Homo sapiens: one gene and its partner. The protein of the gene in region 1 interacts with the protein of each later gene in a pairwise test. Each region holds a gene or a part of one and is shown on either strand. Other genes may lie near its edges.

What was found.
Region 2: the proteins of CD8A (region 1) and PTPRC come close enough for resonance energy transfer, tested with the Homo sapiens proteins (one study listed by BioGRID).

Annotation. Positions count from the first base shown.
Region 1 is NC_000002.12:86,783,804-86,787,913, forward strand, and holds the end of CD8A (T-cell surface glycoprotein CD8 alpha chain isoform 1 precursor), read right to left. Parts: intron 2,169-4,110; coding exon 2,117-2,168; 3' UTR 807-2,116; downstream 1-806. UniProt on the Homo sapiens protein: Integral membrane glycoprotein that plays an essential role in the immune response and serves multiple functions in responses against both external and internal offenses. In T-cells, functions primarily as a coreceptor for MHC class I molecule:peptide complex.
Region 2 is NC_000001.11:198,746,772-198,754,077, reverse strand, and holds part of PTPRC (receptor-type tyrosine-protein phosphatase C isoform 1 precursor), read right to left. Parts: intron 5,970-7,306; coding exon 5,879-5,969; intron 4,663-5,878; coding exon 4,529-4,662; intron 3,587-4,528; coding exon 3,452-3,586; intron 1,830-3,451; coding exon 1,707-1,829; intron 1,485-1,706; coding exon 1,306-1,484; intron 1-1,305. UniProt on the Homo sapiens protein: Protein tyrosine-protein phosphatase required for T-cell activation through the antigen receptor. Acts as a positive regulator of T-cell coactivation upon binding to DPP4.

The DNA of each region.
Region 1 (4,110 bases):
AGGTTGAAGAGGAAATGCTGCTTTTGGCAGAAATGCCCTTTTCCTGTTTTTGCCCTGGCACAGATTCTTTGACATTCATTGGTGCTCCAGGGTCAACTTCACAAGTTTCTCCCATGAGAAGGGGAGCGACCTGTTGTGAGATGCTCATCCTTCCCAGGGAATTCAGAGATAGCCCCGAGCCCAGGCCCTGCTTCCACAGGAGGCCTCAAAACCTGGCACCTGCCTTGACTGGGTGTGCTGGGCACCTCCTGGCCCTGTCAGCTGGGCTCAGGGAGGAGCGACATGGGGAATTTGTCTCATGGGTAATTTATCAGCTTTCTCTTCTGCTTTCACACATAGGCTACTTCATTTAGAGAACAGAAAGCCACTCTTGCTTTCCATTCTCTAAAAGTATCTTGGTTTTAAAACTAACGACAGACTTCTGGAGGGCTGATTACATGGGTGTGTTTGCTTTATGATGTCATCGAGCTGTACATTTACGACTTAAGCAATTTTCAGTACGAATATTTTACCTCAACAACAAGATGACTTAGTGATTTATCATGAAAGGAGCATCGTCTCCTCTGTTACCAAGAAAGAACAAAAGGAAGAAGGGTAATGCAGGATGAAGCTAATCTGTTTTGATTGATGTGAAAATGGCAGGCTCAGGTGAAGGTGGGGACTGATTCAATAATTTTACTTTTAGGTCTTTATCCTAAAGAAACAAAAATATATGCAACATTTTAAGAGTGTTATAGTAGGAAAAGGTTGGAAACAACTAAATATCAGGTAATAGTTAAATAAATGATGGCACAACCAAAATCGGATGCTGTTTACCCATTAAAGAGGATGCTACAAATGTTTATTCATTAAAGCCACTCATAACAGCATAGTACAACCCTATTTAAAAAAGAAAGACATATTTTACATGTATGTGTAGAAAATAATCAGGAAGAATGTACACCATATTAACAGGAGATTATTCCTAAGGTGAAGAATTATGAGTGGTTCTTATTTCCTTATCTACTTAAGTTTTTTCTCTCCAATGGGCAGGCATTGCTTGTACCATACCTTAAGCAAGGAAGTGCATGTTTGGGACAGCAGTTTGGGCTCTCAGCCTCCTTAAGAGAGTCAGGTCTGCCTCATCCCTGTATCTGCTAGTTGAGCAGAGGCCAGGGCTGTGTGAGGGGCTCTCCAACAATTGTCTTTACAAAGTATAAAAAGTCATCAGTGATCCCAGGAACATGTTTGTATCTCAAATTCAGAGATTCAAGAGGGCCTTAGTTTAACCTCACTGATGCTCAAATTCTATTTGTAAAGGGGTAGCCTGTCCTCTTTCATGGGCCCCTCTGCAATGCAAGGGCTGGGAGAGCAATTCCGCCTCCACATAGGGGTTTCACAGAGATTTTCTTTAGAGATAGAGGGATTCATTTTCCAGGGTTAAGCTCACCACTTCATTTTATTTTAGGTCTATACAATTTTAGGCTTGATTATAAAAAAAAAAAGTCTGATATTGTTTACATTATAGAACTCTGCCAAAGGCAGTTCTCTTCTTTAATTCATTACCTCCTCGAGGCTCTGGGCACAGTATCCCAGGTATCAAGAAGTACTTGTTCCCTTGCCGTTGGAGACTCAAGCACCTCACCCTGAGACAGGGGCCTCGGAAAGAAAGACCTGAATGGTGTGGAGGAAAGAGCCCTGAGCTGGGAGACAAGGTCCCTCCAGCTACTGCTCCAACCCTGACTTGCTGTGTGCCTTTGATCAAGCTGTCTCTGGGCTTTAGCCTCCCCCTTTGTAAAACGGGCGGGGAAGAGGTTGAGATGGCATGGGTGCCTCCAGCTCTCTCAGCATGATTCTGAGAACTCTGCGGGTAGCTCTGGCCTGCCCCTTTCCACGCCCTACCGCGATGTGCGCACAACAGTATTGTGACCCTTGTGGTGTACTGTAGATTTTACCTAGTTTTGTTTCCCGTCAAACACATAAAGAAAAAGTAATCTTTCCCACCCCGCCCCCACTAAAATAATAATCATGAGAATGAATACACAGGGAGGAAGACTGGAAAAAATGAAAGGGAAGGACTTGCTCCCTCAAAAGGAAGGATCTCAGTTTGAAGTAATGTAGTGGCTGTTGCACAGGGTTAGACGTATCTCGCCGAAAGGCTGGGCTTGTCTCCCGATTTGACCACAGGCCTGAAAGAGAGGAAAGCGACCATCATTGTAGCCAGAACCCCGCCAGTGCAGCATCCATCCAGCCACGTCCAGCCTCCCAATCCCCCAGCCTTTGAAAGGTCTGAGAACCTGTTCCTGGGGCACCAGCATGGGACTGGGTGAATGACGTCAGCACAGCACCCGTGCTAAATGCCTTACTTGCACCATCTCATGTAATCCTCACAGCAGCCTTAAGGGTGGGCACTGAGATTGAGAAGTTAAACTTGCCCAAGGTCACACATCTAGGAGGTGGCTGAGCCAGGATCTAAACCGAGTTAGTCTAGCTTCCTGGAGCCCCTGTCAAGGTCTCCACAGAGGTGTGAGAGTGAGACTGATAACCAAAGTCATTAGCTGACCTGATTCTCAGCCCCGGAGGATGACAGGGAGAGAGGAGGATGTGAGCAAATCACCACCATCAGCCAAATGATGTTACGCTAAAAACGTGTTAATTCAGCACCAGGCTAGCACCTTGTAAACATGCTAATTCATCATGAGCGTCATGTCTGCACTCTCAGCCCTCTAAAACCTCTCTGTTGAAGCTGAGCGGCCCACCATCATCACTGAGTATATTAACTCGGGTGTTGGAATTTCCCAGGTGTGTTTAATCTGTATAGCTTTGTATTTTAAGGCAGAACTTTATTCTCAGTTATTCATCTCAAAATGAGAGTTTTCAGAAAAGATCGAGAAAAGGGATGGTCCTTCTGCAAAAGTTCCAAAGTGCACCCTGAATAATAAAAATGCTAAAAACTGGCCGGGTGCGGTAGCTCACGCCTATAATCCCAGCACTTTGGGAGGCCAAGGCGGGCGGATCACGAGGTCAGGAGATCGAGACCATCCTGGCTAACACGGTGAAACCCCGTCTCTACTAAAAATACAAAAAATTAGCCGGGTGTTGTGGCGGGTGCCTGTAGTCCCAGCTACTTGGGAGGTTGAGGCAGGAGAATGGCGTGAACCCGGGAGGCGGAGCTTGCAGTGAGCCGAGATCGCACCACTGCACTCAAGCCTGGGCGACATAGCGAGACTCCGTCTCAAAAAAAAAAAAAAAAAAAAAGAAAAGAAAAGAAAAGAAAAGCTAAAAACTTCCCCCCCCACTTTTTTTTTTTTTTTTTGTGAGATGGAATCTTGCTCTGTTACCCAGGCTGGAGTGCAGTGGTACGATCTCAGCTCACTGCAACCTCCGCCTCCCACGTTCAAGCGATTCTCCTGCCTCAGCCTCCTGAGTAGCCCGGATTATAGGCATGCACCACAATACCCGGCTCATTTTCAAAGTCTTTATCCCCTTGGTATATCACCTGTAACATATGCATTGGAAATCCATTGCATTTCCATTGCTAAAAACAACAATGTGTAAAGTCCTGAACTTGGATTCCCTCAGAAAAATGTAAAGGAGTATAAAATGCAAACTCCAGGTATAAAATGTAAAATATTTCATCTACTGAAAAGAACTGGTGTACACAGTCGGTTATCCTTAACACTTCAGCCTGCAGCCATGGGGAAGGTGTCTGAGCTTTGGATGGAAGTTGCAGCTCCCGGGCAGTATGACCTTGGACAAATCACTAAATGTTCTAAGCCTCAGTTTCCTTATCTGTAAAATGCAGGTAATCATGACTACTTTAAAAGTTGTCATAAAACTTAAAATTAAAAAAAATCTATAAAGCAAGTAACGTGCGTTGTAGGCTTTCATCAAATGGTTATTACTATTGATAATCTGAGTTTAATGTGCCTTTGCCACTTTACTAATCCCTGAGCCATGAGATGGCACAAAGTTGCTGTGAGGATTAAGAGAGATGGGGAGTATTACCCCTATCACAGTGCCTGACTAGAGCAGGCACTTGTTAGATGCTACCACAGGGATGCCTCAGCCAACGGGTGGAGAGAGGTTTTTAACAGAGAGGGAGAGAGAGAGAGAGTGTGTGTGTGTGTG
Region 2 (7,306 bases), on another chromosome or scaffold:
TGATAATCCTGGAATTGAAAACTTATTTGTCTTCGACTTTACAAATATATTTTCTTTTATTTAGTATTTTATGGATTTTAATGCATTTTTATTTACATCTGAAGTTGTTGAAACCAATATCAGAATGCCAGTATGATAGATAAGGAAACCAAGATTTGGAGAAGAGAAAGCTGATGTAATCAGAAATATTAGACCTAATATTTTGTAAATTACTAGAACACATGCTCTTCTTCACTCTTCTGCCTCTCTACCACGTTTCACAAATGTTTTCACTTCTGCATCAGTAGAAAAGTAATACCTAGTAGAATTATTCACTAAAAAGAGGGCAATCAAATAGTTTACCAAACAATGAGAAGTATAAAGCATTATCATAAAGATTCAATTTAAACAATATGTTATCAGCAGGACACTTTAGTTATTGTACATAAATCATATTCTAAGAAACATATATAGTTTTACAGTGTAAACTTCCCTTCCTCAGCTTTCTTTCCACATAAATGCTGAAAATTCATATATTTCTTAAGGCTTGATTCTAGTATATGCAATTCCAATAATAACAATTAGACTTTTTCAAAAATTCCAAAAGTTTTTCACTAGATAAACATTTCTCATTTTACTTTACTATTTTTCGTTTCTCATTTACTTCAATATTCTTTTTCATGTAAACTTTTATATTATATATCTTTCTTTCAATTATATTGCTTATTTAAGGTGAATATGTAAGCACCTATCACAGATGAAGAAACTAATAAAATCTAGTAGTATTATTGATATTACCACAATCTTTGCCTTTGGTTCAGTTTAGAAAATTAAATAATGAGTTTCAAATCAAAATTGCTAAGCTTTGTGATTTCAGTTAATATTTAACTTAAAATATGTTTAATAAACTTTGTGTTCATTAAACATATTAGGTGTCTTTGTGACACCTAATAGAGTAGATCAATGTATATGGGTATATGTGTAAGGTGATACCCATCTACCTATCTGTTCACACACCCTTCCATTCATTAATTCATTCACACAAATGACATTCCTGGCTCAATGTTAGCTACCAAGGAATCAAAGATGACATGACACCAAGTATTAAAAAACACAACTTAAAATTATTGCACTATAATATAATCACTTCTATTATATTTCTACAATAGTTGTGTTGTGGAAACAACCAAGAGAGTGACCGACTCCATAAGAAGTTTTTACTGTGGTTATGTGTTTCATATATGAGGATAACTAGATAAGACAACATGTGAACCGAGAAGTCAAGCATTATGATTTTGAGAGCACATTCTACCAAATCCCACGCACCTGCAGTGAATGAGTAGAGGTGTACTCTTGTGATGCTTGTTCCCTTCAGAGGAATTCTTCTGGGGAAGTTTTTGTTTGACGACCTGAATCATAGAGATTAATTCCTTGGGTTCTGCAGGAAGCTGCTCCACACTCCAGTTTGTATATTGGTACTGGTACACAGTTCGAGAGTCTTTCCTCTAAAATCAGAATTGAAGAGAGCATTAACTGGAGTGAAGTTCAGCTTATTTTCTAATTTGATAGTCATATTTTCTTCACAGTTACTTCTATTTAAATAATTTTAAAATGTTATTCTGAAACATTATTTATATGATGGCCTTGCCTGCATAGAGTAATTTATATTCATTTTGCTACCAGATCCATTATATCAAAGAAATATACTCCCCAAATTGTTTCCATACCTTGGAATGTCTCAGTTCAAAGACACGAAGGGTATAAGTTGAAGATTTGTCTGTGTCTTTCAGGTCAACTTCAATATCTCCATATGTTTGCTTTCCTTCTCCCCAGTACTGAGCACAGATTTCCTAGATAAAAGAAGACAATTCAACAATTTGTTTCCTATTTGAAATATGCAAAGGATCAGTCTCCCTCTTTCTCCCTTTCTTTCTCTGTCTGTGCCTCTTTTCTATTAAATGAAAATTATTGTGTTCTAAAATTGAAACCTACTTATAAAAATCCAGAATCTATTTAAGTGCTGGCGACCCATTTAATAAATATGTGGTGTTTCCTTGTGTAAGAAAAGGGAAGCTGAGCACAATCGAGGTGACTGGGACACCCCCGGAACAGCTGTTTTCCTTAGTGTAGGTCTTTGAGGTTTGCTCCTCTTTTCCACATGCTTATCATGACCTCTTCAATATTTATGGCTGGCATGAGTCAATGTTATTCATGACCCTTTCAATAACTCAGGTCCCACTGTCCCTTCAGTGGTTCTTGAGGAAGGAGGCTGCATCTTTTGGAGCTTTGTCTCTGTCATCTTGTTGACCAACACCATAAGCAGCTTTATATATTTTGTCTACATAGCTAAGGAAAGGGCCAGATTGAAGAGTAGATGAACCACAAAAGTGTTTCTTCTTACTACAAACTGTTGTCTACCAACTACAACCCCACAATTTCTGACAAAGACAGGGAGTCCTGCCGGTACTTCCATCCTGTTTCCCAGCTTTCACAATTTATATGAAGGAAAGGATTGTGGGAATTCCATGCTAGAAATCTGGACTTATATTCCTTTAAAACAAAAAACATAAAAAGCAACTTTCCATGTACAGGGGAAGGGGACCAGGTGAGGGTGAGAAAGAGTGAGATTTAGGGGAGAGAGAGGGGCATAAAAAAGCATAAATCTTTTGCATACTTATAAGGTTATTCACTGAATAGGCTTGAACATATGTCAGATAATGTGGTTGGTGCTAAAGCTGAGTGAGATCTACCACCAGGGAAATTTTAATAATAACTGAAGACATTAAGAAAAGGATAAAATATCTGTCACAAGCATTAAGTAAAAAAATCAAATTATAGCTTAGATTCACCTTCAACTATAGACTTTTATGGCAATAAATATTATATGGGAATAAAGAAAGGATGATATAGATACATTTTTCAGGAGTTTGGTCTTGTTAAAAGAATAGGGTCAAAACTGGAAGACAGCACACATTTAGTTACATGGAATATCAATAAGTTTAGACTCAGTGATGACAATGCAAATGGCGTGTTTAGGCTTGGGCATGAAACCTGCTTGTCCAGAGTGGAGAGGATGGAAAACATAAAAATGGGAGGAAGATGAAAGACACATGAGGGGGTGATTGTCCAGGGTGCTGGATATCACAAAAAGATCTTGGCTTTTATCTTGAGAAAATGAGGAAAACAGCGTGAAAATGTAGCTGTTATTTGCTGTGACGCTGACATTGCTGCATCCTGGCTAATCTGTGAGCAGCATGCAAGACTGGAGGGGACAAACAGGAGAGACTGTCAGAATCCAGACACAGCTGATGGAGGCCAACACCAGGGTGAAAGGGGTAAGACTGAGCAGACAGAATTATGTGATGGAGGGATAAAAAAAGACGTGGGTATGGCGATGAAGCAAGCAATCCAAGACTAGAGAATGACGTTTTATGACAGAAAGGCTTAAAAGAAAATCCTCAAAAGTACAAACCTGGTCTCCATGTTTCAGTTCTGTCAGCATAACAATAACTTTGACTTTTCTTTGGAAGATCATCTGCCAAAAGTCACCAATGGTCTCCTTCAGTGGTCCCTGAGCAGCAATCATCACTTCAGGTTTCCAGTAGCTCTTTTTAGACAAAAAAAGGGTGGGACTTCGTTACTACAGAAGAGAGCTCAGTAGATTCTTAAAGTAACCATTTGGAAATATAGTCAGTTTGATATCAATGCTGTTACATACAAATAGTAATATTCTTATGTTTCTTACAAGAAACAATGTAATAGCTATATGTAAAATAATTATACAGATAATAGTAATTCTTAGCTAATAATGTGAAATCAAGATTACAACATATCTTGCGAAACAAATTTTCCTTTCCACAAAAGACACACATTTTTGTTTCTCTATAAAGGTTAATGTGATTGTAAAAAGGAATTACTTAAGCATTTCAAATTACCTTCATCGTGTCTATACTAATTTTAATTAGTGTCTTTACATTCTTATTATATTTCCTAATTAAACTAATATTCTATGAATGTGTGCTTTAGGAAACTTTGGAAAATAAGTAAATCCAACAGTGTATAAATAATAAATATTTAATAAATGACTAAAGTTTCATTGTTTGAATTCTCAGTTAATTAAAAAAGTGGGGGGATATGACACAGACTCACCTAATAATTCAGTTTATCTGAATGAAAAGTTTCTAACCATACAAATATACAAATTTGTCATTGCCTACAATTTGGGTATCTGAGTATGTATAAACATTTTCAAATACTTGTATTTGCTCAAATTTTACTATTTTTAAAATTGATGTGATTATAGCTATATTTGTCATAAAATATAACCAATAGCATTATCTTATTTTGTCTCAGGTTATTAGGTTATAGTATTTTTAAATCTTTCATTAAGTTAAATTGTAGCATTGAAATTGAAACTCTCATGTCAATCTATATGTAGTTATGACCAAGCTCATTATTCTTTTATAAAATCGCTTAATGAATGGCCCTAATAACATAGATATTATTTTAAAATGTTTGGATCTTGGGTTTTGGCAATTTAAGTACCTACCATTATAAAAGATGCATTGATGTATTTGCTTGGTTCCTCTGAATCACTGTCATCATCAGAGGATTCATCTGAATCATGCTCACTCTCTTTACTCATTTCCAGCTCATGTTTAAGTGGCACTCTGTTATAGTCATCTATGTGAAATAAATCAGTAGTAAGTCTTCCTTGAAAAAATTAAATTTCTTCTTCATTGTCATGTGGAAATTTGAAAGTATTTAAAAAGGGACAGATTGTATTATGAAAACTTACTGATCTACATGAAATAAGATCCTATATAAAATTCAGTACTTGTCGATAAACAAATTATACAACAAAAGTCTAAGAAAAAGGATTCCAGGAAAAAACATGGAACATAATTCCATGTCAAACAACAAAGAGATATCATATCATTATATATGATTATTTAATCTTTGATACATATACTTTAATTTCCCATGGACTATTATAATTCTGCTTGATATAAGTTTACAAAATACATAGCGTAGATTTTTTCCCTCAATTATACTCCAGTAATATTAAATTAACAATCTTATATGGGTAGCTTTGATTAATTATTTAGCCCAGAAAATTATTTGACCTATAATTTCTCACTGTTTCTTAATTTCTATAATTTATAATAACTTGGTCAAATGATTTGATTAACCATATCACCATCAATTCCATATTTTAAACTACATTCATAAGGACTCCTATGAAAATTAACTAGGTCAACCATGCACTGATCTGATTTATTTGGTCATCTAATTTATCAACTTGTGTTATATTTTATCCATGCTAATTTTAGTTTATGCAGCTGAATAAAATTACCATATGTGATCATTTTAATATGCTTAAATAGTAGAATTCAAGTATTGAAACTGTGCATATTTTGATCTGTTAAATTTGAAGATTTAGAATTTATAGAGTATTTTCCCCTTACTTTCAACCTCCCAGTTATAAGGGATAAAAAGGAAACATATAGAGAACAAATGGATGTAATTTTTACTATTTGTCAATTACCCTGGAGTAAATAACTGAAATAAACTAAAAATGAAAGAAAATGGGTAAAAGAGACTTGCTCTTTTTTCTCCCAGCTTTATATATTTCTCTTTTATGACAACCCATTTCTGAAATAATTGGTAAAAAGAAAACACTGAATACAGTCTACCCTCCAAAGCCCATTGTAAATGTTCAGGATTATAAGTTCTTGCAATAACTAGTATTTTAATACCTAGTAACTTCTTCCCTATTAACAACCAAATGTTGAAAACTTGCTTCAAGATAATTTATATGACTGTGTGTCCCACATTAAACAAATCCAAAAGAGCTTAACTTTATCTGATACAAAAAATAAAAAAATAAACTACATACATGGGATGACATTAGAATTCCTGTTTTTACTTTTATTTTCTTCTTGATTTCCAATGTGCTGTGTCCTCCAGCTCCTATATGAAGGAAGTCTCTGAAAAAAAAAAAAAAAACAGAAAAACTCCTTTAAAATGTAAATATTGGCTTATTGCATCATAAGATGCTCCCTAAGGAAAAGCATTTCATTAATTTTTGTGAAATTTGCATATGCTCCCTATAGGCCATAATTTTTCGGTTTGCCTCTGATTTTTTTTCTTTAAATTGCTCAGGCATTTAGTCCTTTTGACAGGGCTAGTATGCACTAAAGATATATATGTAACAGACTATGTCTCCTTCTTCAGAGCTGCTTGATAGAAAAATAATATAGTTTGTTCTTATATAAATTGAAACCACTAGACCGATGTTGATCTATATTGCAAAAGCAATGGTAAGTTATTTTAAATGATCAGAAATAAACTTTGGAGACAACACATTCTTAGGAGACTTGGCACATGTTTTGAAAGTTCATTCTTAATTTGTTTACACCTTCCAGATTGCTTTCCTCTCACCCACAGTTCCTAATTAGTCAGAAAAGATCCATCATTTCTATACACAAATCCTTTTAGTTTTCTTTCTTCCTACTTAATCCAGTCTGCCTTCATTTCTCGCTTGTAAAACATCAACAATTTCCTAACTGGCCTCTTTGTCTTCAATCTCGCCTGCTCTAATCCTTCTAAAACACAAAACAGAAGATGCTCTTCTGAAGATGAACAGCTTTCCATCACTATAAGAGGACAACAAACCTCCTCAAAATAGCATAAAAAGTCTTTATTGATACGCCCCTGACTGTTTCTCCAGCCTTACACCTTACTGGGTCCCTCAATACTTCTACCAAACCAGCTTCCTCAATTCTTGGAAGGGCCAAGCTGTTCTTCAACTCTTGGCACATAAACACTTTTTTTTTTTTTTCTTGCTTGAACTACCCTTTCCCCTTTTGGTTGCTCTAATAACTTTTCTTACCCTCTAGGTATCAGTTTAAATACCAATTTCTTCTGGAAGACACCCCTGCCTACAGTCTTTCCACTAGTCCTTAAATAAGTATTTGTCAAGTGAATAATATTTAATGATAATAGATAATGTTACAAATAACTGAAACTGAGAAGGCTCCTCATGTACAATTCGGTAAGATTTTATATACACACACACGCATGTAGATACGTGTGTGTATATAGACATATATTTTTTCAGCATAGTACCCTCATTCAAACTAATTATGGCACCCTGTTTCAAACCTCATTCTTTGCTACGTAATTGAGTGAAAGAAAATATCATCACTGAATTTTAGGCCACTTGAACACCACCATGAGCTGCATGAAGGACCAGATGTTTTGGAAACTGTTACAACACCTTGTGCTCTTGTGAGTGTAGTCACCGAGGCAGCCTATGCCCTGT